Linked DNA regions of Homo sapiens: regions 2, 3, 4 and 5 are each linked to region 1. The links come from fine-mapping of genetic effects on gene expression. A gene starts in region 1. Each other region holds a variant in brackets. All regions are shown on one strand. Distances are between the middles of the regions.

What was found. PIP is the estimated chance that this variant, and not a neighbour inherited with it, causes the effect.
Region 2: its variant is the best candidate, but not a certain one, in a credible set for the expression of C1orf115 in nucleus accumbens (GTEx, PIP 0.68).
Region 3: its variant is the best candidate, but not a certain one, in a credible set for the expression of C1orf115 in lymphoblastoid cells (TwinsUK, PIP 0.68).
Region 4: its variant is the best candidate, but not a certain one, in a credible set for the expression of C1orf115 in nasal epithelium (TOPMed, PIP 0.81).
Region 5: its variant is the best candidate, but not a certain one, in a credible set for the expression of C1orf115 in whole blood (TOPMed, PIP 0.68).

The regions. Positions count from the first base shown.
Region 1 is chr1:220,687,605-220,694,378 of GRCh38, reverse strand. C1orf115 (chromosome 1 open reading frame 115) reads right to left here and starts at 4,016. Exons shown (of 2, transcript NM_024709.5): 1 at 3,668-4,016. The coding sequence starts at 3,976. RefSeq lists a silencer at 3,946-4,185.
Region 2 is chr1:221,012,334-221,019,107 of GRCh38, reverse strand. No RefSeq gene overlaps it. Among named protein-coding and RNA genes, the nearest start is that of HLX-AS1, 140 kb to the right of the region's middle. The variant G/T (reference allele first, on the strand shown) is at 3,459.
Region 3 is chr1:220,709,722-220,715,322 of GRCh38, reverse strand. No RefSeq gene overlaps it. Among named protein-coding and RNA genes, the nearest start is that of C1orf115, 22 kb to the right of the region's middle. The variant G/T (reference allele first, on the strand shown) is at 3,053.
Region 4 is chr1:220,716,225-220,722,280 of GRCh38, reverse strand. No RefSeq gene overlaps it. Among named protein-coding and RNA genes, the nearest start is that of C1orf115, 29 kb to the right of the region's middle. The variant T/A (reference allele first, on the strand shown) is at 3,063.
Region 5 is chr1:220,723,044-220,729,817 of GRCh38, reverse strand. No RefSeq gene overlaps it. Among named protein-coding and RNA genes, the nearest start is that of MTARC2, 22 kb to the left of the region's middle. The variant T/C (reference allele first, on the strand shown) is at 4,351.

The DNA.
Region 1 (6,774 bases):
ATACAATGGGAATATTTAGTAACCACCTCATTGGGTTGTTAAGAGGAGTAAATGAGATCATGTAAGCAAAGCACTGAGAACAGGGCCTGGCACAAACTGCAGGCAGTATAAGTGCCCCCCAATGTCAGCTATTATTACTGCTAAATAACATCTGCTTCTTTTGATTACATAGCAATTTAGGTTTGTGGTGGTGATAGATAAACCCAATATTTTTGTTGTCTGTTTGGGAAAGTTTCTTAAGACTATAATTTCCTATGACTTCTGGCTTACTTGAGCTTTTTTTTTTTTTTTTTTTTTTGAGACCGCGTTTTGCTCTTGTTGCCCAGTCTGGAGTGCAATGGCGCGATCTCAGCTCACTGCAACCTCCACCTCCCAGGTTCAAGCGATTCTCCTGCTGCAGCCTCCCAAGTAGCTGGGATTATAGGCATGCACCACCGCGCCAGGCTAATCTTTTTGTATTTTTAGTAGAGACAGGGTTCACCATGTTCGTCAGTCTGGTTTCCAGCTCCTGACCTCAGGTGATCCACCCGCCTCAGCCTCCCAAAGTGCTGGGATTACATGTGTGAGCCACCACACCCAGCTGAGCTTTCAATAGTTTAAATTACAGGGTCCCTCACAGTAACAGAAGGAGGGCAGGGACTCTGTTGTGCTCATTACTGTATCCTGAGCATGTAGAAAGAGGCTGAGTGTTTCCTTTGGTACCTCTCCCGCTAAATGAGGAGCTTTGCAAGAACCAAGTAATGTCTGTGTCTTCTCTAGACACTGCTTTCCTGGACATTACCCTGTTGATGTCTCAAAGAGACACTGGGCTGGGGCATGCGCATGTGTGGGTATGTGATGTTGCTAAGAGATACAGTTCTTTAAATGTGTGATAAGAATCACTGGGGGAATTTTACTTACATGTTTGAAACAACAAAAGAAAAACATATTCTCTGGGAACAAGCTTAACAATCAAGAGTGATCCATTATAAACAAGATCAGAATGACAATCGCCTGCATTAAACGTGACATTTTTGGTATTTGTACATCCATTTTGCTCAGCCTGTTATACTTTAAAAGCTACTTGTCACTTTGTAATTTAGGGAAAAAAAATCTACTAAAATAGTTCATTAACTGGAACACTGTTAAAAACACAGATTTGAGAAATGAAATGCAAAGAAACATAAAATATCTCTCAACCACTATTTCAGTGTCATTTAAGAGAGTGCATTTGGAATTCTTTGATCTGAGTAGAGCTTTCTACCCAACTACTCTCTCAGAGGGGAGCTGGGGTCTCGGGGAACAAAGAGGGGTCACCTGCTTTATATCTCCATGTTTGAGCCTGGTGACCCTCTCAGGTGGCTCCAAGAAAGTAGAAGCTGAAGTCACTTTTGAAGGGCAGAAAGGAGAGATCCAACCCTAACCTGACGACATCCTCTCACCTGGCCTCCTGGGTCCATTGAACTAGCGTGCAACACTCTAGAGCTTTCATGCCCACAGCTGGGCTTGTGATGGCCCCTCTACCTGAGATGACACCACTTCTCTATCCACTGAAATCTTGTTTTTTTTGTTTGTTTTAGTTAAGGCAAAATTCACATAACATAAAATTCACCATTTTAAAGTGCGTACAGCCCGGTGGCATTTAGTACATTTACATTGTTGTGCAACCACCACTTCTATCTAGTTCCAAAACATTTTCATCATCCCCAGGAAAAAACACATTACCCATTAAGCAGATGGGCTCCATTCCTCTTTCCCGCAGTCCCTGGCAACCACCAATCTGTGTTCCATCTCCATGGGTTGACCTATCCTAAGCATTCCATACAAATGGAATCATACGCACAATATGTGATCTTGCGGGTCTTGTTTACTTCACTTAGCATAATATTTTTAGAGGTTCATCATATTGTAGCATGGATTAGTACATTTCCTTCCTTTTATGGCTGAATACTATTCCATTGTATGTATATAACACACTTGTTTATGCATTCATCCATTTAGGGACATTTGGGTTGTTTCCACCTTTTGACTATTGTAAATAATAATTCCATTAAAATGTGTATATAAACATTGATTTGAGTACCTGTTTTCAATTCTTTGGTTACATCCCTAGGAGTGGAACTGCTAGATCACAGAATAAGTCTACACTGAACTTTTTAAGGAACTCCCAAATTGTTTTCCACAGCAGCTGTCCCATTTTACATTCCCACCAGCAATGTACAATGGTTCCAATTTCTCTACATTCTCGCCAACATTTGTTATTCGGTTTGTTTGGACATTTTTTGGAGTAGCCGTTCTAGTGGGGATGAAGTGTGCCTACTTCATACCACTTCACTGTTATCTGGTGAAATCTTAACTCATCCTTCTGTGCCCAGTTTTCATGTCACCGTGATTTGAAAACTTCCCTGAGTTTACAAGCTCACCGCTGAGGAGTGAACTGCCTGAGCTCTGTGCCCTGAAGCCCCCCCGGGGGCGGGGGGAGCCAGCTATGTCAGTGTCTCCCTGGGAGGCTGTGCCCTTCTCTAGGGCAGGGCTGCACTGTATTCATTTTCGCATCTCTACTGCTCAGCACAATGCCTGACGCATAATGAGTGCCCCCAAAATATCTTCAAGTCCTAGTCCTTGAGCTGAGGTTTCTGCAGTATCAGTTCACCAATGGAGAGGGACATGATGGCTTCTTTGTGCTCAACTGGGACCCAAAGCAGAGATGAATCGTCCTAGCAGGGCTCTAAGCCTGAAAGACCCAACTTTATAGTTTTACCCCTGCCTGTATTCTGCTCCAGAAGCTGCTGACATACCTTTAAAGAGGATGATAAACCTAAGCTCCCAGGCATGGAGACTGAATGGCTTCAGGTGTAAGACGGCATTGGGCAACACAGATAAATAGACAATAAATCAGATGGGGCCCGTGGCCTTTGGCCAGGACACAGTAACTTCTGTGACTTTATTCTGGGTGGCCTTGTCCAGGCCAGCAGAGCTTCCGGCAGCAGCTTCGACTGTTTCCATGCAGAGACACCTGGGAACTGCATCTGCGCTTTGATTTCCGCGAAGGAAACTGTCATTTTCTCCCATATTCATTCTTCCTAACCCCATCTCCCCGAGACAAACGGCAGAATGTTTTGAAGGCCCCAGAGTACACTGATAGTTGGCTAGACGAGAAAAATTCAACGAGCGCCTATTTATGTATTTGTTGCGCTCCCAGGCTCGGGAAATAACCTTGGGAATATTTGGGAGAGTAACCCAAACATTTCTCAACTAGTGGGATATCCTGGAGGGGATGTTACTGGAAAACAAATACACTGGGTTGCAATTTCTTTCTTTCCAACTGGGCCACCTTCTCCAAGTCACCTGCCGCGCTAACGCTTCAGTATTCCCATCTGTAATCAGGAAACTGATTCCTGATCTTACATAAAAACCACCGCGGTAGGAGCCCCTTGAGAATGTTCTTAAGAAGCCAGGAGCGCAATAGCAGGCACAGCAGGGACCACCCAGCGCAACCCCCGATTTAAGTTTCTATCACGACTCGCAACTCGCGGCTTCCCTCCGGCGAGGGAATGGGAGCGGGGGCGGAGGGGTCGCAGGTGCAGCCCGGAGAAACTGGGTGAGTCGATGGTAAGGACCCGGCTCCCGCTCCCCCGCGGGACACCACACCCGCGCCCCCCGGGCAGTGGTGGCGCAGGGCCCCTACCTTGCCGTACTTCTTCAGCTTCCTCCGGTACCTCTTCCTGGGCTGCTCGCTCGGCGCCGGCTCCTCCAGTGGCTCGTAGCGCTCGGGCAGGAGGGCGAAGTGCACCCTCCGCGCGCCCCGGGTCCCCGGGCCCCGCTCGTCCGCCGCGCTCGTCCCGCTCTCGGCCGCCGCCTCCGCCTCGTCCGCGTACTCCAGGTGCTCCAGGATGGCGGCCGCCTCCTCGTCCCCCTCGGTTCGCCCTCGCCCTCGGGGCCCGCGGCGCAGGAGGCTGCTCTCCGCCTTGCTTCGGAGCCTGGCTCCCACCGTCATGATGTCCCGGCCCCTCTGGCGAAGGTCCGAGCGCAAAGACACCAACCTTTGGTCCCCGCCCGCTCCTCCGCCCCAGCCCGGACGGGGCGGGGGATTGGGGGGGCCGCAGCGCCCCCTGGCCGTGGGGCCCGGGATAGCGTTGGCTCCGCTCCGAACTGGCCTACCAGGCGGCGGGCGCGCTCCGCCAGCCCCGCCCTTCATCCCACCTGCCGGCCAAACTGTGCAGACTACGGCGCGCACTGCACAATGAACATGCAAAACACCTTCAACTGCACTTGCTACGAAATTAATGACCCCAAATAATAGGACTCCATCTGCTCATGTTCAAATTAGCAACGATGGAAAATGATACTAGAGATCACGCTCAGTGCTAGGGAGGGCATGGCGAGATAGTCACGGTAACAGGATTCGTGGGAGTGCAAATTGGTGGCAAGGTTTTGGAGAGACGATCAGAAAATCTTTATCGTGAGTCTTAGGAAACGTCCGTATTCTAGGAAATATTCGGAAACGCAAGACAGTGTGTCCACGGTGTTCAACGGTCTGACTCAGTGAAAAAGTGGAGCAAACCAACAGGGAGGCGCAAAGGAAATTCTGGTGCAGACATGCCAGCATATGGCGCAGTCTTTAAAATCATGATTTTCAGGAATATCTCTCTGTGAGATAAGCATTATCAGTGTACTGTGAATCTCAACAAGCTGAGAGTGCCCTATTTTCTTAAGTGGGTAAATGCCTTTGAATTCTGGCTAATGTAGAATTAAGGGCCGAAAGCAGTGGCTCACGCCTGTAATCCCAGCACTTTGAGAGGCCGGGAGGATAGCTTCAGCCCAGGAGTTGGGGAACAGCCTGGGCAACATAGTGAGACCTCCATCTCTAGAAAAAAAAAAAAAAATTAGCCAGGCGTAGGGGCGCACACCTGTGATCCCAGCTATTCAGGAGGATCGCTTGGGCCTGGGAGTTTGAGACTAGCCTGGGCAACACAGGGAGACCTCATCTCTAGAAATAGAAAAACAAATACAAAAGTTTACCTGTAGTCCCAGTGAGGTAGGGAGATCGCTTGATCCTGGAAGGTGGAGATTGCAGTGAGCTATGATTGTGCCACTGCGCTCCAAAGGGGTCGACAGAGTGAGATCCCATCTCAAAAAAATACTTAGGTATAAAATAACATAGATTGTTAGATACACTGATATTTTAACATTAAAGTTTGTGATTAAATTTAAGAATAACGTGTATATGTTGGTATAAGCACATACAATGTTTACGACAATTTAGTTCACTAGGATGCAAAAGAAATTAGTTTTGTGATTCCAACTTAAAATGTGAGCCAGCATGGTGACTTTCACCTGTAATCCCAGCAACTCCACAGGCTGTGGTGGGAGGATCCCTTGAGGCTAGGAGTTCTGAGCAACGTAGGCCCCATTTCTAAAAAAGTGAAAATGTGTGGCTCGGTGCGGTGACTCACACCTGTAATCCCAACACTTTGGGAGACCAAGGCGGTGGATCACCTGAGGTCAGGAGTTCGAGACCAGCCTGGCCAATATAGTGAAACCCTGTCTCTACTAAAAATACAAAAATTAGCCAGGCATGGTGGCGTGCTCCTGTAGTCTCAGCTATTCGGCAGGCTGAGGAGGAGAATCGCTTAAACCCAAGAGGCAGAGGTTGCAGTGAGCGGAGATCGTGCCACGGCACTCCAGCCTGGGCAACAGAGTGAGACTCTGTCTCAAAAAAAAAAAAAAAAGTAATCAGCTAATTGATTTACGCTTTTATTTAACTTATGTAATAAGGTAATAAGTAATGACTTATATTTAATCTTAAAAACATAGAGTCTTTATATGTAAAATAGTATATAAAATTTATGTACAATTCAATTTCAGGTGAAATGGGTATGAAAATGAATTTAACTTACTATATTTATAAGAATTACTTAGAGTTTTGTTATAGAATTGAAGTACTTGAAAAGAAAGTCAAATATTAAATTTGTAAAAGTTGCTTGAAATGTTTAGGAGAATTAACTAAACAGTAAAAGTGCCTCCTTACAGTAATTGTAAAATTTTATCGGGTGAGTAAATAGTTTAAAACAGTATGTAATTTGAATTTAAAAGGTTAAGAGAAAGTAGATTTGTAGATTTGTAATTTTGCTAAAGCAACTATTACTTTATAAACAAACAGAGACCCTTGTAGTCCCTTTTTTTTTTGTACAAAACCGACCTCAAAGAACCCTAGGCTGCTTATCAAATGGTGATATAGTTTGGTTCTATGTCCCCACCAAATTTCATGTTGAATTGTAATCCCCACTGTTGGAGGTGGGGCCTGGTGGGAGGTGATTGGATCATGAGGGTGGCCCTTCATGAATGACTTAGCACCATCCCCTCAGTGCTATCCTAGTAATAGTGAGTGAGTTATCGCGAGATCTGGTCGTTTAAAAGTGGGTGGTGTGCACCTCCCCCTTCTCTCTCTCATCTTCCTTCTTTGGCCATGTTTGCGTGTTTCCCCTTTACTTTCTGCCATGATTGTAAGTTTCCTGAGGCCTCCCCAGAAGCAGAAGCCATCATGCTTCCTGTATAGCCAGCAGAACTGTGAGCAAATTAACCCTCTTTTCTTTATAAATTACTGAGTCTCAGGTATTTCTTTATAGCAGTGCAAGAACGGACTAATACAAATAGAGACGAAGGTAGAACATCCATGGGCCTAAAATGTGTTTTTGTCAGTACAAAATACTGTTCAAATATCACAACAACATTTAGTTTGCCTTTAAAGGCAAAACACTAGAACAATTAAAAATTGATCTCCAGATTAAGTCT
Region 2 (6,774 bases), 320 kb before region 1:
AACAGGACCTTCCTCCAAAGGGAAGTAAAGGATTACATAAAAAGCCAGGCTGTATGGGAATCTTTTTTTTTTTTTTAATTTCTTTATCCATTTGTGGGGATTGAAGGCCTAGTTTTTAATCTTGCTTGGGTATAGGAGGACAACACCTCCTGATAAAGACAGGACCATTTTTCTTCATCAGGCAATATCTCCAGCAGAAGCACTGAAAAAGAAATTTCATCTCGCTCTGAAGGTAAGTTTAGTTTTATTTGTTAAGCAAATGGTTGCATTAAAATAGTTCATGGTTCTACTTATATAATAGTTTTTCTACCCTAACCTTATTAAAACTTGGAATTGAGAACAGTAGGATACAACTACTGAAGAAAGAAAAGGCCAGCAAACACGTACAAATGAATAGAAATTTAATAGGTATTTTCTTTTATAAAATGTCACAAAACAATCAATCAGCTAAGTAAATAACCAAAGTAAAGTGAAATCACTAAAATTATTGCCCAGTCAGCTATTTGGTGTCTCAGTCAGCACCTCATCATATTTTTAATTACATTGACAGCCTCTGGGTAAATAAGTGATGCAAATCTTCTTTTTGGCAGTGACAAAATTTTTATCACCAACTTTCTTTTCTCATTAATGGTCACAGACTGGTATGTATTACAGATGGATATCACATAAGTTAATAACATATTGCAGCAGCCAGAAGAGTTCAAAATACTGAAGCGGATCCTAATGGAATTGGGATGGAAGACAGTGATAAGATCAGAGGAAGATCCTATGTGTAGCAAGGTTAAAATCTGCTTGGGAGAAGCCGGGCATGGTGGCTCATGCCTGTAATCCCAGCACTTTGGGAGGCCAAGGCGGCAGTGGATCACCTGAGGTCAGGAGTTTGAGACCAGCCTGGACAATTTGGTGAAACTCCATCTCTACTGAAAACACACACACACACACACACAAAATTAGTCAAGCAAGGTGGCACGTGCCTGTCAGCTACTCAGAAGGCTGAGGCACGAGAATCACTTGCACCCAGGAAGCGGAGGTTGCAGTAAGCCAAGATCATGCTACTGCACTCCAGCCTGGGCCACAGAGTGAGACTCTGTCTCCAAAAACATGAAACAAAACAAAACACAACAAAATCTGCTTAGGAGAATAGAACTCAGAGTGATCACAAACATAATTGACCCAAGAGCACAAACAAATCTAATGATGAGTTCAAATTAGTATATCTTGACCTTGAGCTTAGTGGGAAGACAGGACATGGATGGGATGGATTAACAAGGGATCCATGCTTATAATAAAGCAGCAGCAGGAACTGAAGTGAAAGCCTCCTCCAGGACAGGTTAAGGGTGAGGGAGTGGAGGTGTTGCCTAGAACTAGCTGATGTGCTCAACTTTTAGCTGTTCGAGGGAAAAAATCCGATCAGAACACAAGGAACTGAGAGAGCCACTCTTACTATTTCAAAGGGACCTAAATGACATGGAAAACATAACAAGCTACCAGTAGGCCTAAGCCATCAAGGTGGGGAAAAGGTACTAAAAAAGGAAAGGAATAAAAAGGAATGCCATGCCATGGTGGAAAGAACATTAGCCTGCTAACAAAATGGTGAGTTCTTGTCCCAGCAGCTATTGGCTGTCTTCAGGACCTTCAGCAAGTCATTGAGCCTCTTTATAGTCTAAGTCTTCTGGATTGGAGCGTGTGGTCATTGCACTTCTTTCCAACATAGATTTCATAAAACACTAGACCCACAGAAAGTGCTTTGAGAAACCTCCTTATAAATATTGTGCAGCCAAAAATATTTGAAAAATTTTGCTTAACCCAATCCTAAAGATTCACAATGCACATTAGCACTTAAAGTCTTTGAGAAGTCTTACCCTAAAAAAAATCGATTTACTTTTACTTTTAATTGTATTTTTACTTTTACAATTATTTTTAATTGCAAAAACCTCAATTACTTTTGCACCAATCTAAAAGGTAAGATAGTTTTACTCAATATTTACCAAACCTACTTGACACAAGGTTGTTTATTTTTCTGTGAAATATCCATTGACATAAATTGCATCCTTTGCTAAATACACAGGACTATATATTTCCAAATTTAAGTTTCTAAATGAGTCTCAAAATGGAGAAACATAAAGCATGAAGCAGAAACTTCCAGTTCCTTATATTAACCCCAAGACTGTAAAGCTAGTATAGAGTGACCTTAATTTAGAACTCCCATGAGGAAATATAACAAAAGCAATTGCTCAGTGGCAATTTCTAGTTAATGATCATGGAGACTAAATAGAAACCAATCCAGCTTTTGTAGACCTGCCTGAGTTGTGGTGGGTTAACCAATCACTGCACACAGGCTAAGAAATGTCTCTAATGTACTTGCACTGCGCTGAGTTCTAACATGTAATGCGTAATTATTTCTTATCCCAAATAAAGATAAAATTATAGTCTCAAAATTATAAGTGTTAGCTCCTAGAAGACAAGGAATTCCCTCCTGTATCTCCAGGGCCCATCCTCAGTTCCTGGCATAAGGCATATTTACTCATTTATGAATGAGTGTTCTAACAGACAAATATTTATTGTGATGCTCTAAGTATTACACCACCCTCCAACAAATTTAAGGCCTGTTTAAAGAAACCTTGAAATAGCTTTATTTGTTGTCAAAGCCAAAAACAATTAATGCTTACTGATCATGAAGGCATGTTGATTTTCAGCCAAAACGCAACGCGTTTATTTTCATTGGGTTACATTTCTAGAGACCAGAGCTTTAGATATAAAGACTACATGTTAATGGGCAGAATGGATGTTCATTCTAACGACATAATGGGGAATTCACAACAGAACGACATGTCATCTGTATGACTGGCAACATAAACAAGAGAGTTACAAAAAGAGAGGAATAAGGGAACCAAATATGTTCATGAGATCTATTAGCGAAAGTTTTCTATAGGAGAAATTGAAGTGGCTCTTCAAAAAAAGAAAAAAAAGTTTAAAAGAAGGACTGATTTTTAAAGATATTCCGTGATACTTTTTGCTATTGCTTTTTCAAAGGAAAAAATAAAGCAGGTTTTTGTCTTTTTTTTTTTTTTCAAATAGAAAGCTTTTAAACAGAAAGCAGACACGCTGAGAATAGCCTGAGTCAGGAATTCACCCCTGACCCCTCAGTCCAGTGATGTCCCAGCCTGTGACCCCCAGCCCCAGCCGTTTTGCACTTGACCCGTTTTGCACTTGACCTGCTTTGCACTTGACCCATTTTAAATGGCCCCCACTCACTCCTATTAAAAACATACACCTTTGGGCTATTCAAATTAATTATATATATGCATATATATATAATTGATAATGTAATATATATATGGTTTTCTTGGCACCTTTGGCTTTCTCTCTTGCTTGGATATGTGTAGAAACCTTCACTTCCTCCCTCTTTCTCCAACCTGCTTTTTAGCCAGTCCCCTCCTTGAGCTGTGCTGATACAC[G/T]CCATCATCACATTCTCAGCTTTATCACAAGGCAGTTTCATTTGCTCTCTGCCCTTGTTAAGCACTCTGCTCCAGTTCCTTCACTGATTTCAATAGGAAAAGCAGAACAGATATCCCTATAGAACACTGTCATCACCTCATAAGGTCTACAGCCTGGAACATAAAATACTTCCGATTTCTAAGTTCTCTCTCAGGCTGAGCGGATTACAAGTCGGGCACTTAAAATCAAAAGCCAACAGGGACCCAACCATGACACTGAATGAGAAGTATAAGCAGACGTTATGAGTCACTTCCAAAAATTGGGAGTTATAGTGTCACAAGGCTAAGTGCCCTGGAGAGGATGTGGGTCTGATAATCAGAATGTTCCCAAATTCAAAAAGCAAGAAGTAGACCTGTGTTTAAAATATGAGTGCAACATATGGATTTTGACTTAGCATAACATGAAATAAAAACAAGACAGCAAATTTTGGGAGGACTGCTCAATTGTCATCGTATCTGACACCAACAGAGGTCCAAAGTATTCCTTCCAACCCTTCCAATCCACAAATAGACCACATAGAGTTCAGGTAGCAGGAGATGCAAAGTTCCTACTTTACTGGATGCTGGAATTTCAGGTCCAGAGGAAAGTTTGCAAAGCTACCCCACTTACCACCTCCCTATTGGTATATATACAGAGTACCCAAATGCATTGTCACTTCAGCAGAAGAACAATCTAAGAGTAAGTCAAAATTTTGAAGAGGTTGCTTGTAAGCACTGATATGATTCTTCTCCTTATGCACCATTCTCAAAGTCATGCCATGTCATTGCACCAGCCTGTCATTTGTAGGATGTATAAGAGGTTCCAACTTTCTCTACCACTCACTATTCAACACAAGGAAGCAAACTATTTAAAAAGCTTTTCTCTTGCTTCTTAATCAATAAAAAGAACAAGATGAATGGCCCCTTAATTTCACAAAACACCCTGAATTTAGAAGGCAATTTAATATCCTTAATCTTATCTGTGGGATAATTAGCCACTTTTATCTATTTTCTCTCCCCTTGGTGGGTACTACGTTTTGGCCAGACGGAATTCACTCACACCTAGCCTCAGATGAGACCTACGCCATTTCCTATTCTGTAGGCTGATTGCTTCTGAACTGTATTCTTCCAATATTGCTTTAGAGTCTGTTCCTGATTTATGCACCCTGCTTCAATTCCTGCTGCAAGATTGCATAATTCTAAGTTCAAGAGCTGTCTCTGAGTATGAGAAAAATAATAATCATAAACCAAAATGTGAGACTTCCATCTTTCCTTCCTAAACTAGTGAACTTCCAATAAGGTCTCCTAAATTGGTAAAAGTCACAAATCTTCCTTAGATCCCTTTGATTCCTTCTTTCCTATAAGAAGAATAATTGGAGGAGGTGGGCAACAAAACAGAAAATATAATCTTCCTAGGCAGATTTTCTGTCTTCTATTAGACCAGTCCTCACAAACACAAATGCCTACAGCAGCCAGGCAGGTCAGTGAGAGAGTGAACAGAGGAGTCATAAAATACTAGCAGTAGTGTGGACTGTGGCAAACTAGTGAGTACATGCACAGCTCCTAACACTTCCCCATCTGTTCAGTCCCAGCCAACTGTTGAATAGAAATGCAGGTTCAAGGTTTTCAGATTTTTTGATTTTTCATGAGGCTCCCAAAGTCTGGACACTTTAATGTAAAATTTCCCAATTTGTAAATGTTGGCAACTAATTGAAAACATTTCAAAACAATACAAAGGCCAAGGAAAACAGGTCCACAGGCCAGATGTGGCCTGTGAGCCATGGTGTGCAAACTCTGTGATGGGCTCAAAAGCTGTTTAAATTCACTAAGACAGTTGGGGTGCATAAAGGAAGAAAGAGAAATGGCATAGCCTCTTGGCTTCAGAGGAAAGTTTAACAATCTATGTGGAGGAAAGGCAGGTCACTAGGGAAAGAAACACTTTGGGCCAACACCCAAGCATGGGTTGGCCCAAACCTATGGGTTGACAATTATTTGACTTTGTCCAAGAAATAATGTCTCTAGAATAAGAGATGAAGGCCAGGCACAGTGGTTAACGCCTGTAATCCCAGCACTTTGAGAGGCCGAGGTGGCGGATCATTTGAGGTCAGGAGTTCAAAACCAGCCTGACCAACATGGTGAAACCCTGTCTTAACTAAAAATACAAAAATTAACCGGATGTGGTGACGTTCTCCTGTAATCCCAGCTCCTTGGGAGGCTGAAGCAGGAGAATCGCTTGAACCTGGGAGACAGAGGTTGCAGTGAGCTGAGATTGTAACACTGCACTCCAGCCTGGGTGACAGAGCGAGACTCCATCTCAGAAAAAAAAAAAAGACAGAGAGAGAGAGAGAGATGAAATTGAAAGTCTAAATTTCAAGAACATACTAATATAAACAGATAAATAATAAGTACATGTGTTTCTGTTCTAGAGTAAAAAGGTACAAAAGCTAATGGAGATTGAGATTTCAGGCCCCAATTTTTTCAGGAAGGAGAGAAAAACTATGAGAAATCGATGAACAATGTGCAGTTAATGTGGATGACATTGAAGTTGGGTGGGAGAAAAGGCTCAATTACCAGCATAGAGCCTGTGGGGAGACAGAGTGGCTCCACAGCAGAGACTATCACAGCCACCTCCCGCTGCACCTTCTGTAGTCACACTCAGGGTCAAGCAGCCTGAACTGTTCGAATGAACAAAAATAATCAGAGGGCTTCTGTCTCTGTCTGTAGCTACCACCGTTGAACAAGTACCCACATCAGTATCCTGGGGGATACACATTTGGGGAATGTTGTGATGGATCTCAAGCACACCTAAGGGAACTATCACAGGCACAGAGCTAAACAATATTTGCCAATTTACAACTACTGATTAAAAGCCCTGTCACCAAGCCAAGCACTCCAGCATGATTTTACCATTTTCCCCAAAGGTTTCCAGCTTCCAGGAAAGGAGTTGCAGAGAATGCAAGGTAAGTGCATACAGCTCAGGCAAGCAGGCTGAGGAGCAGACCACCGCTTCAGGCTTTGGATTTTCACAAACAATCCTGCCTCCCCCAAGCTGAGACAATGCCCTGCATTCACTGAGTTCTCAGGAGCTACCATAGTGTGCCGAGGAGCAGGAAAAAAGTTAGACTTGAATTGAAGATAGATTGGTATTCACTAAATGGCACTTCTGAATTTACTGCAGCCTTCGCCTTTAGAGAGAATTGCCAAGGTGCTCATAAAAGGAGAAATGATGAATATTCAGGATGTCTTTTGAATCCATTAGGCAACCGGGATGAGGTCTCCATATGTAGACTTCTCGTTC
Region 3 (5,601 bases), 22 kb before region 1:
ATGTTGAGGTGTTTTAGCCTCAGAAGCAGGCCTCAGGAAATAGAATCTCTCTCTCTGACCTTCTCCTGTCCTCTTTACACCTTCCCAAGGCAAGCCTTTAATCTAACTGTGGGTCAAAAGACTCTCATTCCAGAAGCAGTCCTGCCTCAAACCCTGGGGAAAGGAATGCTATGCAGAGAGGCCACAAAAAGTCTGAATAGACAAGCTTACTGGGTTTAGATCAGGCACTTTTTGTCCAATCACATTTCTACATGGTTGTCAACCGTATCTATGTAATAAAGCCTCAATGACAACCCAAAGGGACATGGTTCAGAGAGCTTCCAGATAGTTGGAACATGGAGATCCTGGAGGGTGGCATGCCAGGAGAGGGCATGGAAGTTCTGCTTTCCCTCCCCCATGCCTCACCCTATGCCTCTCTTCATCTGTATCTTTTGTAATAGCCCTTATAATAAACCTGTAAACACAATTGTTTTTCTCAGTTCTGAGAGCTGCTCCAGCAAACTAATCAAACACAAATTAATCCAGCAAATTAATCCAGGGGGGCATGGGAACCCCAACTTAAAGATGGTTGATCAGAAGTTTTGGAATCCCAGACTTGTGACTGGGTCTAAAGCGGGGGACACAGTCTCAGGGGACTGATCCCTCAAACTGTGAGATCTGACACTATCTCCAAGTAGATAGTACCAGCACTGAATTAGAGGATGACCATTTGGGTGTCATCTACAGAATTCATTGCTTGCTTGCTGGTAGAGAGAAATACCCACATATTTTGAGGTCATAGAAGTCTTCTGTGTTCATTATTACTGTGTTGATGTGAGAACAGAGGGAAAAAAAATGGTTTGAAAAACATGTTAAACATAGTTGTATACCCAAGAGAAATGGGAATACATGTCCACACAAAATATGTACACAAATGTTCATAGCAAAATTATTCATAATAAACAAAAACACAGACACAACCCAAATATCAATGGATGAATGGCTGAACAAAATGTGATGTATCCAACCAATGGAATATTATTCAGCCCTGAAAACAAATGAGGCACTAATACATGCTACAACATGGATGAACCTTGAAAACATCACGCTGAGTGAAAGAAGCTAGTCATCAAAGGCCACATTTTGTTTTATTGCATTTATATGAAATGTCCAGAATAGGCAAATCCATAGAAAAATAAAGTTGGTTGGTAGGTATCTGGGGTTGGGAGAAAATTTGGATTGACCACTAATGGGTACATAGTCTCTTTTTGAAGTGATGAAAACATTCTAAATTAGATTTTGGTGATGTTTGCACACCCCTGAAAACATAGTAAAAACCATCGAATTATACACTTTAAATGGGTAAACTGTATGATATGTGAATGATATCCCACTAAATCTGTTTTTTTTTAAAAAGACTGTCCTTATATAAAAATGTTTGTTAGAGGATACAGCAGCAACTTAGAAACAGGGCTTACATTATAGTCAGGAAAATGGATTCCTTGCATGCAAATATAAAGCAAACTGCAGTTCAATAAGCTAATGTAAAATCAGTAACACTTTCAGAGCTAAGGGATTTCAGAGGTGGGAGGGGTCCTCTAGCCAGAGGAAGAGGGAGATAGGGAGAGGTTCAGAAAAAGCTTTCAGCTGGGCCTGAAAATGTGAAAATTCCTAAGTAGGAAAGTACAGAAGACCTAGACGTGTGGTCCTGCAGGCTGATCACATCATGGACAAAGGCAGAAAAGATGGAAATGTGAAGGACATGGCCGGGTGTGGTAGGTCACGCCTGTAATCCCAGCACTTTGGGAGGCCAACGTGGGCGGATCACTTGAGGCCAGGAGTTTGAGACCAGCCTGGCCAACATGGCAAAATCCTGTCCCTGCTGAAAGTACAAAAAAAGTAGCCAGGTGTGGTGGCAGGCGCCTGTAATCCCAGCTACTCAGGAGGCTGAGGCAGGAGAATCTCTTGAACCTGGGAGGCGGAGGTTGCAGTGAGCCGAGATGGCTCCACTGCACTCCAGCCTGGGCGACAGAGAAAGACCCTGTCTCAAAAAAAAAAAAAAAACTGTGAAGGACATGTTCAGAAAGTTTGGCTGTAGCCAAGGGTTTGTATAAGGAAGCAATGGATTTTTTTAAGTCAATTGAATAGGTTATAATGGTGTATTTTTGTGCTAATTTGCATTTCTATTATTATTGAGGATGTATTTGCAATGTTCTTTTTTTCCTTTTAATTTACAAGTGTTTTGTTTCAATTCTGCATATATTATAATTTATATTACACACACACTTTTTTTTAAATTTAACCCACAGTTCTATCTGAAATTTGGGTGAGAATATGGCATGATATAGGGATCTATTTAAATTATTATTTTTTACATAAATAGCGAATTGTCCCATCATCATTTATCAAGTAATCCACCCTTTCCAGATAGATTTAAAATGCCTCCTCCATCACATAAACAGTAGCTCCAAGCCCGCAGACCCCGTTTGTCGTCTGGTTTCTCATGCTTCCAGCACAGCACAGTGGTGTGCAGTTTGGGAAGCAAAGATCTTGCAGAGATCTATCCAGAAGAGAACACTGGAGGCCTCCCGAACAAGCAATAATAGAAGATTATGGTTCATTCCACACAGTCACTTCACAGTGTGCTGGAGAAGGCATCAAATGATCTAGCAAATGTCCATCACCGTATGTCTGAGTGGTGGAATTACCAGTGTTTTTCATATCCCTCTTTCCTCCATTCAAATCTTCTGTGAGTAAATATTCAGAAGACGAACAATAAATAGTAATCAAACAAAAACACTTTTAGGACATTTAAAGCCTTGAAAGGTTTAAAGTAACTCATCTGCAGGCACGTCTGGGTCCACCACGCAGTGTTATCCTGGGTGCAGGGGCCCCTAGAGATCTTTGTGCCCAAGCTCACCTGGCTGGCTCCCCGCAAGAGCAATCATCTCTAAGAGTGTGAGCCTATGGCTCCAGCCAATCCGGATCCATCTAAACTCTATTTCCCCAGGAGCAGTTCTCCCTTCCCTCAGCCTCTGCCTGAAACATCACCCCTTAACTGAATAACAAGGGG[G/T]TGCGCTGCATAAAAGTTGCTGCCCGACCAGGAGCCGTGGCTCACGCGTGTAATCCCAGCACTTTGGGAGGCCGAGGTGGGTGGATCACCTGAGGTCAGGAGTTCAAGACCAGCCTGACCAACATGGTGAAACCCTGTCTCTATTAAAAATACAAAAAAATTAGCCGGACGTGGTGGCGGGAGCCTGTAATCCCAGCTACTCAGGAGGCTGAGGCAGGAGAATTGCTTGAACCCGGGAGGTGGAGGTTGCAGTGAGCTGAGATCGCGCCATTGCATTCCACTCCAGCCTGGGCAACAAGAGGGAAACTCCGTCTCAAAAAAAACATTTTTTTTGCTGCCCATATTTCCCTAAGGAGAGGGGGATTTCACTGAACCCAATACTGTATTTGGAAGCCACAAAGTTGTTTCTTCCCTAAGTTTTGGAGAAATCAACATGGGGAACCCACAGACCCTCAAATGGGAAGAGAAGTGCTTGGGAAAGGGGAACTGCCTAGTGTAAAGTCCACCTGGATGACAAGCATAAAATGTATGTGTGTGTTGAGGGGAGTGGGAGAACCAGAGCAGAAAAAGCCTTTCGGGATCTATCTGGAGGGAAGGCATGACCAAGAACGGTGTGGAATCCACCCAGCCTGAGATGTCTCCTGTGGGGCCTTGTGCAAGGAGAGGCCTCTCGGTCTCACTTCCTCATTTGAATAAGAAGGATAATAACATCTATGTTACTGGGCTCTTATGAGGATTAAATGACGTGATACTGAGCACCTAGCAGGGCCTGAATTTTACTGAGGCGCGCGTGTTAATTTCCTCCACTCAGTTCTGCCTTATATGCACAAAAGGCACCACTTCTGTCCCCTTCAGGAGGGCCTGAAATGTGCCTTGAAGCAGACTCCAGAGCCAGGAGACACCAATGGGGAGTGTGTGTACAGTAAGTCTCTGTCTCCCCCAGGGAGGACAAGGTCAGGGACGGGGCCAACCATGTGACTGTACAGGTTCCAAGGTAAAAATGACAAGGGCACAGGAAATACTTTGGCTGCAGCAGAAAACCCCAGAGCTTGGCTTTGCACATTGTCTTTCTGGCCCAGCATAGAGGCATTGTGCAAATTAAACAAATAAACAGTAATCTTGGCCTTGGGCTCAAAAGTCTCCACATTCTCCTGTTTCTTCCTCCAGCTGGTGCCTTCCCTGTCGCTCAGACCAAAATCCCAGAGAATTATTTGGTTCCACGCTTTCCCTAAGTCCCACACTTACATAGACAAATTTTGTTACCTCTGTTTTCTTTCCTTTCCTTTTTTGGGGGGTAGGGGGGCAAAGGGGTTGGGGACAGGGTTTCTCTTTGTTGCCCAGGTTGGAGTACAGTGGCAAAATTATAGCTCACTGCAGCTTCAAACTCCTGGGCTTAAGGGATCCTCCAGCCTCAGCCTCCTGAGTAGCTGGGACTACAGGTACATGTCACCATGCTCAGCTAAACATTTTTCATTTTTTTAGAGACAGAGTTCTCACTATGTTGCCCAGGCTGGTCTCAAACTCCTGACCTCAAGCAATCCTCCTACTCTGGCCTCCCAAGGCACTGGGATTACAGGCTTGAGCCAATGCACCCATTTCCTCAATATGGCTCCAGTGGGCTTTCTCTTTTCCATTGCTCCTGGACCACCCAAGGCCCCTTCCACTCCTCTCTGCTTCAGCAAGGCACACCCCAGGCCAGCCTGTTCCCATAGCAGTTAGAGGGATCTTTTCAAACCATGGAGTGGATCCTACTGCCACGCCTCCCCACTACTTAGAGCCTATCAAAAGTTTCCCCTTCACTTCCCCTCGCTGTCAATACAGCCTACAGGAAGTGGGGAGAAGGCACCTCCACTTCCCACCCCCACTCCCTTCCTCTCCCCTCTCCAGCGAAACTGGCTTCCCTTCCCAACCACGCTGAGCCCCCACCCTCCTGAAGGCACTGAAGGCATCCCTTCTGACAACCTCGCAGCTCTTATCCCTGCCCAGAGCGCCTGCCCCAAGGCTGTCAAGTCCTCCCACAGGCCTCCCTGCCCATCCACCGGAGGCTAAGGCCTCCTCATTTGCTTCCCCCATAGCAGCTGACTACTCATTTGTCTTTTATCCTTGGTCTGCCCCTCAGTAGGAGGCAAGGAGGCAGGCACCATGCCCCTGGTTGCTTGTGCACTGTCCCAGCCTAGTGACAGGTGCAGAGCAGGTGTCAGGTAACATTTGTTAAATGTCTGAGTGACTAAATAGATGAAAGAATTAGCCGGGCATGGTGGTGCATGCCTGTAGTCCCAGCTACTTGGGAGGCTGAGGCAGGGCATCCCTTGAACTCAGGAAGTTGAGACTGCAGTGAGCTGTGATTGCACCACTGCACTCCAGCCTGGGTGACAAAGACCCTGCCTCAAAATAAATAAATCAGTAGGTGAAAGGAATTGGTAATGAATGACACTATAGAGCCAAGCACACTTCTTTGACTCTCCAAGGTACAGTGTCACGGTGGGTTAGGGTAGGACCCTAAGCAGACACCCACATATTGGACTTCAGGCTGGCATGGAGCCCCAGAA
Region 4 (6,056 bases), 28 kb before region 1:
TAAGGATGGTCTCAGAGGTTGGGGCCACTAGAATAAACTGAATCTAATACTTCCACACAGTTATGTTTAACTGGGCTCTCTGATACCAGGAGCAAGGTGGCAGGGTTTAGGGTGTTGTAAACTTCAATGGTTATGCGGGGACTTTCACAGAGCAAGCTTTGGTATCTAGTTAGTCTAGCATTCGTTAACTAATGATGTCCTTTGGTATTGATTAAAGTCACCACAGCATGGGAGGACTTTATGTTTAGGTTTTGCCTAAGAGTTAGCTTATCTGCTTCTTGTGCTAACAGGACCATCGCTGCCAGGGCCCTTAGACATGGGGGCCAGCCTTTGGAAACCCCGTCTAGTTGTTTTGAGAGATAGGCCACTGGCCTTGGCCAGGGCCCCACGGTCTGGGTTAAAACTCCAACTGCCTTTTTTTTTCTTTTTGACACACAGAGTGTAAAAGGTTTTGTCAGGTCAGGTAGCCCCAGGGCTGGGGCCGACCTGAGTTTTTCTTTTAACTCATGAAAAGCTTGTTGCTGTTGGTTGTAATAGATGTAGTTTATCTAATTTATATTTTTATTGACTGTCATCTACCAAAATATTGACTTGAGTCCTGTAGCTATTTGATTTCAAGCTTTAAATTGATCTGGTATTCCTTGCGGGGCTCCAATTGCATCTAAATAGATGTGAGAGTTGAAAGACCCATAAGGGGCTTCTCTCGCTTTATGATGTCTTATTTTTTTTCTTCCTCTGGTTGATGAAATGCCAGGGTTAAAGGGACAGCCAAATGGACTAAAGCACAAGTGCCACTCTAGTTATTTGGCAGAGTGCCCAGTAAAGTTCCACCACAACACCACCATACATCCGCTCGGGGATGAACAAGGGCTGACTGATTGATAAGTTCTTGAAAATTCTTAAGCTCACTGCATCCCTTCAGGTCTCCAAGGAATGCTAAGTTTCCTCCCTGTCATGAGAGACACGAAGTGAACTTAGCGTTGGGAGACAGAAGCTGGATGGCCTTCGGGGGCTGACCTACGGGGTGCCGGACATTGGGATATAGCAGAGAGAGCTTGGCACGACTTATTACTCTAGGCTGTAGAATCCTGGAAAAGAGCTACCATGGAGCCCATGCTTGGTCGACTGGAGGACCACCTTAGTGGAAAGGGGACCATCTGGGACTCTGGCCTGTCATGTGCACAAGCATAATAATTGCTTTTGTTTAACGTGCAGATGGAATATTTGATCCATTCCAACCAGGCATTTGCATCTTGTTGTGCTGTCTTAATTGCCAAAGTTTGTTTTAAGTCTTTAACTTCTATGATCCTCTAGTAAAATGCATGTTTCCTTTAGCACCTATTTTTATTAGTTTTTAGACCAAAGAAAGCTAAACACAATTTTATATTTAATAATGCTTCTTGTATGATTTTTATACCAGATAAGCTAAACTCTACCTTTATATTAGTGTGTTATTAATGTTAAATTTAATTTTAATAAAACCTTGTAGACATATTTATCCAAATTTTCATGTTTGACCATAAGGTAAGATTTTATAGACTCTTTTTAACCTTTTATAATTTTTGTTAAAGACCAGGTTGGTGCTTTAAGAAAAACCTGTTGTGTTTTTACTTTAATGTCCAGTTCACAGAAAAACTGGATGATACCTTTTTAACTTTAGCTAATATGTTTACACACAGAATTTTCTTTACAATTGATGTTTTAAAACTTGCTTAAACTTTCAAAACAATAATTTTTTTAACCTTTTACTGTAGGTAAAAATCCACATTCTTATGCCTCCTTATATTCCTTTTACCAAAGGTATATTTTACTTTTCTTATACACCTTGCACATAAAACTGTTTCTTCAATACTACTCAGGAGGCCTTATTGCTTTTTAAATTATACAACATTTTTTGCATAAAATTTTTTTATAACCTTTTTTCTTTCATGACTTTCACAGACAATTCTTCGACATGTCTCAACTTTCTGACTTATTATAAACATTTCTTTCTTTAAACAACCAGTTAATTTATTTCAGGACAAGAATTTACCATATAACACTCTTTTATGTAAATTCTGCCTCCCCCTTTTTTTCCTTTTTTCTTTTTTTGAAGATAACCATTCTTTTTTTTTTTTTTAAAGCGAACTTTCTTTATGTCTGTGGACTAGATTGTCTACGGCCACAAGATTAGAAGTTACTGTAATACATGTTACACTGTTAACTTTAGCAAACTTTACTTTTGTTGAAAACCTTGTAAGTTTGGGATTTCAGTTATCCTTTGCTATTAATAAGACCTCGTTTAGTCTAAATTAACTTAGAATTAGTATAGATGGCCCTTTTTTTTCCCGTTAGCAAAGCAGCTGCCGCTACAGATTGAAGGCATCTGGGCCATCCACGGGTTACTGGATTAAGGATTTTTGATAGGAAGACCTCAGTGCTTTCGGGATATGCCCTTGTTTACACTGACAACAAAGTGGTATTAGAGTGTTACAGGGTTATGGAGAATACCTTTAATTATCAATTATAGGTTTTAAATTTACCTTGGCTTTTAAAGGAATAGGGTATACTGTTTTTTTCTTAACTACTTGTATATTTCTCTTTCTCTTTTTCTTTCTTTCTTTGACTTTCTCTCTCTCTCTCTCTCTCTTTGACTTTCCTTTTGCCTCTGTCTCTTCCTCTCTTTCTGCCTCTCTCTCTGCCTCTCTCTTTTCTTGACTCCTTCTTTGTCTCTCTGTCTCTTCCTCTCTCTCTTTGCCTCTTTTTCTCTCTGTCTCTTTCCTCTCTTTCTCTCTGCTGGTCTTTCCTTGCCTCTGCCAGCCGCTTATGCTGCTGTTCACTTAACTACTGTTTTGGGAAAGGGGGTCTAAAACCAGCTGTAACTAAGTGTCTCTGTACGGAAACTGGTCTGGTTGCCCTGCCTTGCAGGTTACCTTGTGCCATACCTTTGAAACAAGGGACCTGTCCAGGCTTCCTTCTGATGGCCAACACACCTCTAATGCTGGCCAGTCTATTTCACACAAAGTTCTAAGTTTTCCTGGTGTCATAGTAACACCGTAATCTCCCTTAAATCTTTTCTTGAA[T/A]TTTTTCGACATAGTTCCTAGCGGGGTGGGCTTATTTGTGCCTGACCCATGCTTCTTCAAGACAAAACACCACACTCACACCACACATACACCACAAAACAAAGAACAGGTAAAAAGGGCACACACACACTTTTGCGGTTTACACCAAACCAAAATCAAAACCAAAATCAGAGTATCCAGAAATCCAGGCCAGGTCAAAACCAGAACCAAAGTATCAAGCAACCTAAGTCAAGTCAAAAACAAAAACCAAAGTGCCGGTACAGGCACACCGTGGGTGATCAGGCCACACTTCCACTCAAATGGAGTGGGCAAGTTCCGAAGACCAGTCCTATCAAGCAATTCAAACCAAGTCAAAACCAATACCAAAGTGCTGATAAAGGCACACCATGGGTGATCAGGCCATGCTTCCACTCAAATGGAGTGGGCAAGTTCCAAAGACTAGTCTTACCAAGTTTCAGATATCCAGACTCCAAGCGCCAGTTCCTTCCCGGTGTTCAGCCACTGCGTTGATCCTCCACAGGGGCGTGCCACACACTGCTCTGGTGAGGTGTCCCACCGGGGCAAATGCCTACCCGGGAGCACTCTCAGGATCCGTGTCGCTCCGGCTGGTTGGAGTCCCCCTCAGGGATGTTCCACAGGGCAGGCTAAAGCTGCCTAAGGAGCTGCCTTGACCGTCCATTAATCACCTCGCTTCCTGGTCAGAGAACCAAGAAATGTAGCAGGACCAGCCATGGAAAAAACCCCTCAGACACCGAGACACTGAAGGGAATGGCTTTAATCAGCTGGGAGTATCGGCAGACTAGCGTCTTAAAATCCGAGCTCGTCAGGTGCTCAACTTCTGTCCCTTTTAAGGGCTCACAACTCTAAGGAGGTCCACGTGAGAGGGTCGTGATCAATTGAGCAAGCCGGGGGCTGCGTGACAGGGGCTGCAAGCACCAGTGGTCAGAGTGAAACAGAACAGAACGGGAGGTTTCACAACGTCCTTCCATACTGTGTCTGGAATCTATAGATAACAACAGTTGCTAGGTCAGGTGTCGATCTTTAACTACCCAGCTTAGGTCAGGCAGGCCCAGGCCTGGTTTCAGATCTGGTTCCTTGGTTTTGGGTCTGGTTCCTAGGCGCCAGGCTACCTGCCTTTAGTTTCGCTTCTCTTTCCTTTTCTGAGTGTAAAACAATATCAAACAATAGGAGAGGGTCTCTCTCTTCCCTCAGTATGAAACAGTGTTTGGTTTTCTTTGGGCCATATTTGTGTAAATATGTTATTTGTATGTGTTCCAAAATTATGGGCAACTCCTGTAATTCTGATATGACTAAGTGTACATTATCAGTAATAATCATAATTGTCACGTTAAAATTATTATGTGCCACAAAGGTAACAAACTTTCTTGCCAATTGTGTCTTTGACTATGGTGGCCCTAAAACATTTTGTCATCCACAGACAATTGTTCTCTTGCTTTGGTACTGTTTAGACAGTTGTTTTATAATCAGCTATAACTGGTGCCCTTGAATGCAGGTTTCTAATAACTTTGGAGATTGTGACATCAGAACAGTGGAAAAAGGGGCACAGCTTGGTTTTATACATTTTAGGGAGATACGAGGCATCAATCAATATATGTAAAAAGTGTATTGGTTCCATCCGGAAAGACGGGGACAACTCGAAGCAAGGAAGGGGGCTTCCAGGTCACAGGGAGGTGGGAGACAAAGGGTTACATCCTTCTGAATTTCTGATAAGCGTTTCCAAAGGAGGCAATCACATACGCATCTATCTCAGTGAGCAGAGGGATGACTTTGAATAGAATGGGAAGCAAGTTTGCCCTGACCAGTTCCCAGCTTGACTTTTACCTTTAGTTCAGTAATTTGGGGGCCCCAAGATTTTCCTTTCACACTTCCCCCCTATTCTTTTTTAAAATCTTTTAGAGAAAGTATTTTAGAAGAAAATGAGTCTCTGATTTCAGGTTTCATCTGATCTCTCATGGCAAGGATGGTTTATTCCTAGACAGGTAGGTCCCAAAAGTTCATTTTTAGCAGGTTATGAAGTCTCATGTCCTATAAAGAGAAAATAAGGGGAGGAAGGGAGAAAAACAACAGCAAACAAAAGAATGATCCTGGAAAGTGGCTTATGTATGTAAATGGGATGCTGTTATTTTCTTCTGAAGTTTAAGTTGTCTAGCTTCAGTTTGCAGGGCTTTAAGAAACACAGCTTAGTTTTCAGTGATTTCAAATTAGGAAAAATTGGGGAAAAAAAGAAAAGAAAGAAAAAAAATATTGAAAATGTTATTTTGTAGACTTGTAGCCAGGAAAAATTAGAGTTCAGCCCAAACTGTAGAAAATAATAAAAATTGAAAAACATTAGGCAAGACTAGAATCTAACAACAAGTGTACTATAGTTTTTGAAACATATTTTTTCTCTCTCTCCAGTTTCCCATTTTCACTAAAGACAAATCATGGTAGGACCAACCTGCTTTATTTTACCTGTCCAGATTATTTGTATAAAGTACAGCAAGAATAATTATTTTTCACATAGGCTTTTTAAAATTGGCTTTGATGAAACTTTGTTCCATAGAAGAAATATCAAGACATTTTTAAAGCCGAACCCCGCGATGGATTTGTGCCACCACCAAATACCTATGAGTTGGGTGAATTACCTCTCCTCTTGAGGTTCCAAGATAAACCTAGGGCTCCTGGGCCTGTCAGAAGGTGACATTCTTTACTAACGACAGGTCAGAAACCCTGTACAGGGACTCTGTAGACAAAGTATGAGGCCAGTTTTCCCAAGGGCTTTTATTGGCTGCATAAGTCAGGTTTTATTCCTTAAGGAAAGCATGCCATTCCAGTCAAAGCCTTGGTAAAATAACCAGTTTCTCCAATTGTGTCCTCTTACAAATGAGAACAGATTCTTATTGCACTTATGCAAATAACTGTATTGTCGTAAGTTAAGAATACTCACAAATAGTTTCCAAATTCTTCAGAAATCAGGTAGAGAGAAACAAATAT
Region 5 (6,774 bases), 35 kb before region 1:
ATAACCAAACTCCACAATTGTTACCATATAAATAATTTTTCTTTATAAAAGAATAAAAATATATATGTACCTACATATATGTATGTGTATATGTAAAAGACAAATATAAAACTTCAAATAAATTATTTTGCTTTGGATAACTCACTTGAGCCTTTGACAGTGTGAGAATGTTTTTCTTGGCCGGGCGTGGTGGCTCATGCCTGTAATCTCAGCACTTTGGGAGGCCAAGGCGGGTGGATCACTTAAGGCCAGGAATTTGAGACCAGCCTGGCCAACATGGTGAAACCCATCTCTACTAAAAATACAAAACTTAGCTGGGCGTAGTGGCACGCACCTGCAATCCCAGCTACTAGGGAAGCTGAGACCAGAGAATCGTTTGAACCCGGGAGGTGGAGGTTGCAGGGAGCCAAGATGGCACCACTGCACTCCAGCTTGGGTGACAGAGCAAGACTCTGTCTCAAAAAAAGAAGAAGAAGAAGAAGGAGGAGAGAAAATGTCTTTCTTTGTCTCTCAGTAATCAAAATGGGGAATCAATATATTTAGTAATGCTCACCCCACCTGGCCTCATCAGCATCTTCCCCACGATTATCTCTTTTAGTGTTGTTTGCTCACCACAAGCTGTAATATTGATACATATGAATTATGACTGAGCATCTATTATATGCAAGACTCTTACATTTGCAAAACAAATTTGGGAGCATTCTTCTCCCTACAATCTTAGAATCAAGTGTATAAAATATACATATACATAAATGTATAAATAAATAAATATAATACAAGGTGGAAAGTGATGAAGGTCATGTGGGAGGTTGGAACCTAGTGATATAGAGATTCAAAGGGAGGAAAAATAACTTTTGGTGTGGAGTCAAGAGAAAGATTCTATTCTTGTTGAGAAAGGCTGAAAAGCATATTTTGAATGGGGAGCTCACTCTGGTACCAGGGCAGCTATTAAGAGAAGTTTTAAAAGGAAATGCCCAATTAGACTTGTGGTGACTATGCTAGATACTCAGTTAAAAGAAGAGAGAGTTTGTACATGTGCCTCATTTAGGCCTTGTTCCCTTCCTTTCGCTGCATGAATAATTAGTTTTTGAGACCTAAAAGTCCATCTTCCACCCAATTAGTTCCTCTAATTAAAAGCCATCATGATGACAAACGTTTTCTCTCACATCCTTCATTTTTCCAAATCTAAATGCACAGCTTCTAGAGGTTCTCTTCCAGTTCAAAGTTTTTACAATTTGAGAATAATGAAAAATGACCAGCTTTCCCTAATCATATGTATAGGAAAGTGTGTACCTTAGGATTTTGATACTCCTTGAGGAAGGCCATGTGGATTTCTTTTCTTTTCTTTTTTTTTTTTTGAGATGGAGTCTCGCTCTGCCGCCTAGGCTGGAGTGTAGTGGTGCGATCTCGGCTCACTGCAAGCTCCGCCTGCCGGGTTCACACCATTCTCCTGCCTCAGCCTCTCGAGTAGCTGGGAATACAGGTGCCCGCCACCATGCCTGGCTAATTTTTTTGTATTTTTAGTAGAGATGGGGTTTCACCGTGTTAGCCAGGATGGTCTTGATCTCCTGACCTCATGATCTGCCCACCTCGGCCTCCCAAAGTGCTGGGATTACAGGCGTGAGCCACCGCGCCCAGCTGCCCGTGTGGATTTCAAGTATCATACAGAAAGCCCAAGTCCACAGCTTGGAATGTTCCTAGTCATTATTAGGATGATTAATGAAAAAATTCCAAAAGCCAATATGGACTCAGATTAGAAGCATCAAAAACTCCCCACTCTGGCTCACTTTATCGTGACTCTGCTGAGCATGTGGTATAATAAAGACAGTGGGTTAATTAGGAGAGAATATTATAGTAAGGAAATATAGGTCTCACCTATAGAAACTTCAGGAAAGGTTTACTGCTTTAGCTTGGCTTGACATGGTACAAAGCCCACTTCCATAATTCATTCATGCAACAAACTATGTCTGGTAGGTACTGAGGATCTAATGGTAAACAAGAGAAAAACAATCCTGCCTTCAAAGCGGCCACAATGAAATCATCAATGTTTTCCAGGTTTCTTTGGGCCAAGCTGACTGCTTTCTTTTGCAATATCCTAAAGTGCTGAGGAAGCAATAACTAAAAGGAGGAGTCTTTGGCAATGATAACAGCAATCATTATAAAAACAGAGGCCTGGTTTCCAATAATATTAAATAGTAGACTAGAAAACTAAGACACATACAAGAATGTTTTGGGCAGCATTATTGGTGATAGACAAAACCAACCCAAATGTCCCTCAACAGCACAATAGATAGATAAGTTGTGGTGTATTTATTCAGCAAATGAATGTACAGCAAATAAAAATGAACAAACTATAGCTACACACACACACACACGAGTTAAACTTTTTTTAAAAATGAGCCAAAGAATCCAGACAATAAAATAATACATACTGTGTGATTCCATTCCTATAAAGTTCAAAACCAGGAAAAACTAAAACACGATGTCAAGGGATACACAAGATGGTGGTGAAACCACAAAAAGACGCAATCAGGTAATAACCATAAAACCAGGCTGTGGTTTCATGTAGAAGGGAGAGTAGGTGATGTGACTGGGAAGAAGCAGGGGGAAACTTCTGGAGCCTGGAGCATTCTTTTTTGTGGCTTGTTCAGGGGTTACAGAGGTGTTCACTTTATAATGATCTGTCCACTATTACGTTTCCTGCACTCTCAACATGTGTACTGTTGGGAGAATGACAAAATAAGGAGAATGACAAGCCAATACTGACATCAGGACAGCAGAAAGGGGTCCCACTATCCATCATGTTCTGGGGCAGTGCACAGTGATCTAACAGAGTGGAAAACAGACACCTAGAGTGGGGCGTTGGTCCTTGGGCTCTGGGGCTCTTAGGCTGCATGAATGGGAGAAGAACCAGCTCCTCTCTGTCATGATCAGTAGCTGGCAGTCAATTATAAGCTGAAAAGAGAGACCCTGGGTTTCCAGCCCAATTCTAGCACCTCAGTGTTTATGGCTGGGGGAGAACCAGCCCCCTACCTGCATAACCAGGAACTACAGGCAAATCCTTGCAGTTGCAAATGTACATCTATCCGGTAGTGAGTTCTACCAGGATTGATTGGCTTCATTCAGCCTACCCTACAGCCGGTGTTCTTGGAGGTCTGCAGAAGACCAGTGCTTTCTCTGGGAGAGCTGTCTATAGGGATCAGCCTCAGCTCTCGTGTGTTATATTTCACAGTAAAGAAGGAAAAGAAGATAGGGTAGGCAGAAGTATAACTGATCAAAGATGTCCACATCATAATTCTCAGAACCTGTGAATATGTTACCTTACATGGCAAAAGAGACTTCACAGATGTGATTAAGTTAAAGATTTTGAGATGGGAAGATTGTTCTGGATTATCCCGGTTGGCCCAATGTAATCATGTCTCCTTATGAGGGAAAGAAAGGGGCAAGAGAGTCAGAGAAGAAGATGTAATGATAGCAGAATTTGGAGTGATGTGATTGCTGGTTTTGTAGACGGGAGAGGGCATGAGCCCAAGAATGTGGCAGCCTCTGGGAGCTGGAAAGACAATACCAGAAAGAAATTTACAACATTCGCAAATATGTAAAAATCAAACACACTCCTAAATCATCAATGGGCAAACAAGAAATCACAAGGGAAATTAGAAAATACCTTCAGATGAATGAAAATGGAACCACAACATACCAAAACTTTAGGAGATAAAGCTAAAACAGTGCTTAGCAGGAAGCTTAGAGATATAAATGCCCAAAAATCCCAACTCAGTAGCCTAATGTTCTACCTCAAAGAAAACCAAGAAGAGCAAACTAAACCTAAAAGAAGGAGAAGAAAGGGGTTGATAAAGATTAGAGCAGAAATAAATAATGCAGAGAATAGAAAGGCAATAGAGAAAAGCGATGAAACCCAAAAATGCTTGTTCTTTGAAAAGATCAGCACAATTGACAAACATTTAGCTAGACTAACAAGAGAAAAAGAGAGAAGACTCAAATTCATAAAATCAGGAATGAAAGATGGGAAACCACTACCAATCTTACAAAACTTAAAAGGTTATTAGAGAGTATTATGAAAGCTGTGTCCCAACAAGTTAGATAAACTAGTTTAAACTGACTGATTCCTAGAAAAATACCAATTATCAAAACTAACTCAGACCTGGGCAACATGACAAGACCTTGTCTCTACTAAAAATTGAAAAATTAGCTGAGCGTTGGTGGCATACACCTGTGGTCCTAGCTACTTGGAAGCCAAGAGGTTGAGGATGCAGTGAGCCATGTTTGTGCCACCCAGCATCTTTCCATGGTAAATATACTGAACAAATTAGCAACAGAAGGGAACTTCCT[T/C]AATCTGAAAAAGACCATCTAAGAAAAACTCACGTCATACCTAATGGTGAAAAACAGAATGGAATGCTTTCCTCCTAAAATCAGGAGCAAGACAAGGATGTCTGCTTTCACTACTTCAATTCAATATTGTATTGGAGTCTCTTGCCAGAGCAACTAGACAAGAAAAAGAAAAAACAGGATCTATATTGAAAAAGAAGTAAAACCATCTCTACTATATCATAGTCTTGTATATAGAAAATCCTAAGTAATCACTAAAAAACTATTAAGTCCAGTAAATAAATTTAGTGAGATAGCAGAATACAAGATCAATATCCAAAAATCAATTGTACTTCTATACACCAGCAAATGAATAATCTGAAAAGGAAATTTAAAAAATAATTCTACTTACAGTAGCATCAAAAATAATAAAATACTTAAAAATAAATTTAACAAAAGAAATGCAAAACTCATATTCTGAACACTACACAACACTGTTAAAAGAAATTAAAGAAAATTTAAATAAATGGAAAAACATCTAATCTTCATGGATTGAATGACAATATTAAGATGACAGCATTCCCCAAATCTATAGGTTCAATGCAATCCTGTCAAAAATCTCATCTGGCTTTTCTTTTCGTGAAAATTGATGAGTTAATAATAAAATTTATATAGAAATGCAAGGAACCAAGGAGAGTAAAACAATTTAAAAAAAAACCACAAAGATGGAGAACTCACACTTTCAAAACTTACTACAAAACTACAAATATTAGGACATTTTTTATACTGTCACACAGTCCGGCATATAGTTCATTGGAATAGAATTAAAAGCCCAGAAACAAACCCTTATATGTATGTTTAATATACATAGCGGAGTCTTGCTATGTTGCCCAGGTTGGACTTGAACTCCTGGGCTAAAGCGATCCTCCAGTCTTGGCCTCCCAACGTGCTGGGATTACAGGCATTAGTCCGAGCGCCCAGCCTTCAACTTATTTTTCACATAAATCCCAAAACAATTTAATGTGGGGGAAGAATTATCTTTTCTTTTTCTCTGTTTCTTTCTTTTTGAGAGAGTCTCCCTCTGTCACTCAGGCTGGAGTGCAGTGGCAGGATCTCAGCTCACTGCGACCTCTGCCTCCCAGGTTCAAGCAATTCTCAGGCCTCAGCCTCCCGAGTAGCTGTAATTATAGGCGTGCACTACCACACCCAGCTAATTTTTTTATTTTTCATAGAGATGGGGTTTCACCACGTTGGCCAGGCTGGTCTCAAACTCTTGACCTCAGATGATTCACCTGCCTCAGCCTCTCAAAGCTCTGGGATTACAGGAGTGAGCCACCAGGCCCGGCCAGAATTGTCTTTTCAATAATGGTGCTGTAACAACTGAATATGCACATTCAAAGTGCACCATACAGAAATTTAACTCCAAATAGAACATAGACCTAAATATGAGTTAAAACTATATTTTTATATAGTTTTATAGGAACTAAAACTCTTAGGAAAAAATAAAAGTGTACATCTTCATGATCTTGGATTAGGCTAAGCCTTCCTAGCCAGCACCAAAAGCACAAGAGACAAAAGAAAAAAAATAGTCACAGTGGAATTCATCTGAGAAAGGAACATTTTGGGACCCCCAAATTACTAAGCTAAAGGCAAAAGTCAAGCTGGAAACTGCTCAGGGCAAACCTGTCTCCCACTCTATTCAAAGTCATCCCTCTGCTCACTGAGATAGATGTGTATCTGATTGCCTCCTTTGGAAAGGCTTATCAGAAACTCAGAAGAATGCAACGCTTTGTCTCCCACCTCCCAGTAACCTGGAAGCCCCTTCCCTGCTTTGAGTTGTCTCCACCTTTCTGGATGGAACCAATGTACTTCTTACATATATTGATTGATGTTTCAGGTCTCCCTAAAATGTATAAAAACCAAGCTGTGTCCTGACCACCTTGGGCACATGTCTTCAGGACTTACTGAGGCTGTGTCACGGGCACGTGTCCTCAACCTTGGCAAAGTAAACTTTCTTTTTTTTTTTTTTTTTTTTTTTTTTTTGACACTCGCTCTGTCTCCCAGGCTGGAGTGCAGTGGTGCAATCTCGGCTCACTGCAAGCTCCGCCTCCTATGTTCACGCCATTCTCCTGCCTCAGCCTCCCCAGCAGCTGGGACTACAGGCGCCCGCCAGCACACCTGGCTAATTGTTTTGTGTTTTTAATAGAGACGGGGTTTCACTGTGTTAGCCAGGATGGTCTCTATCTCCTGACCTCCTAATCTGCCTGCCTCCGCCTCCCGAAGTGCTGGGATTACAGGCGTGAGTCACCGCCCCCGCCGGCAAAGTAAACTTTCTAAATTAACTGAGACCTGTCTCAGATTTTGGGGGTTCGCATTTTGGTAACCGCGAGGGATTCTGAGTGGAGGTGCTCTTGACCTTTGACAAATCTCCTATCGGTGCTTGGTACC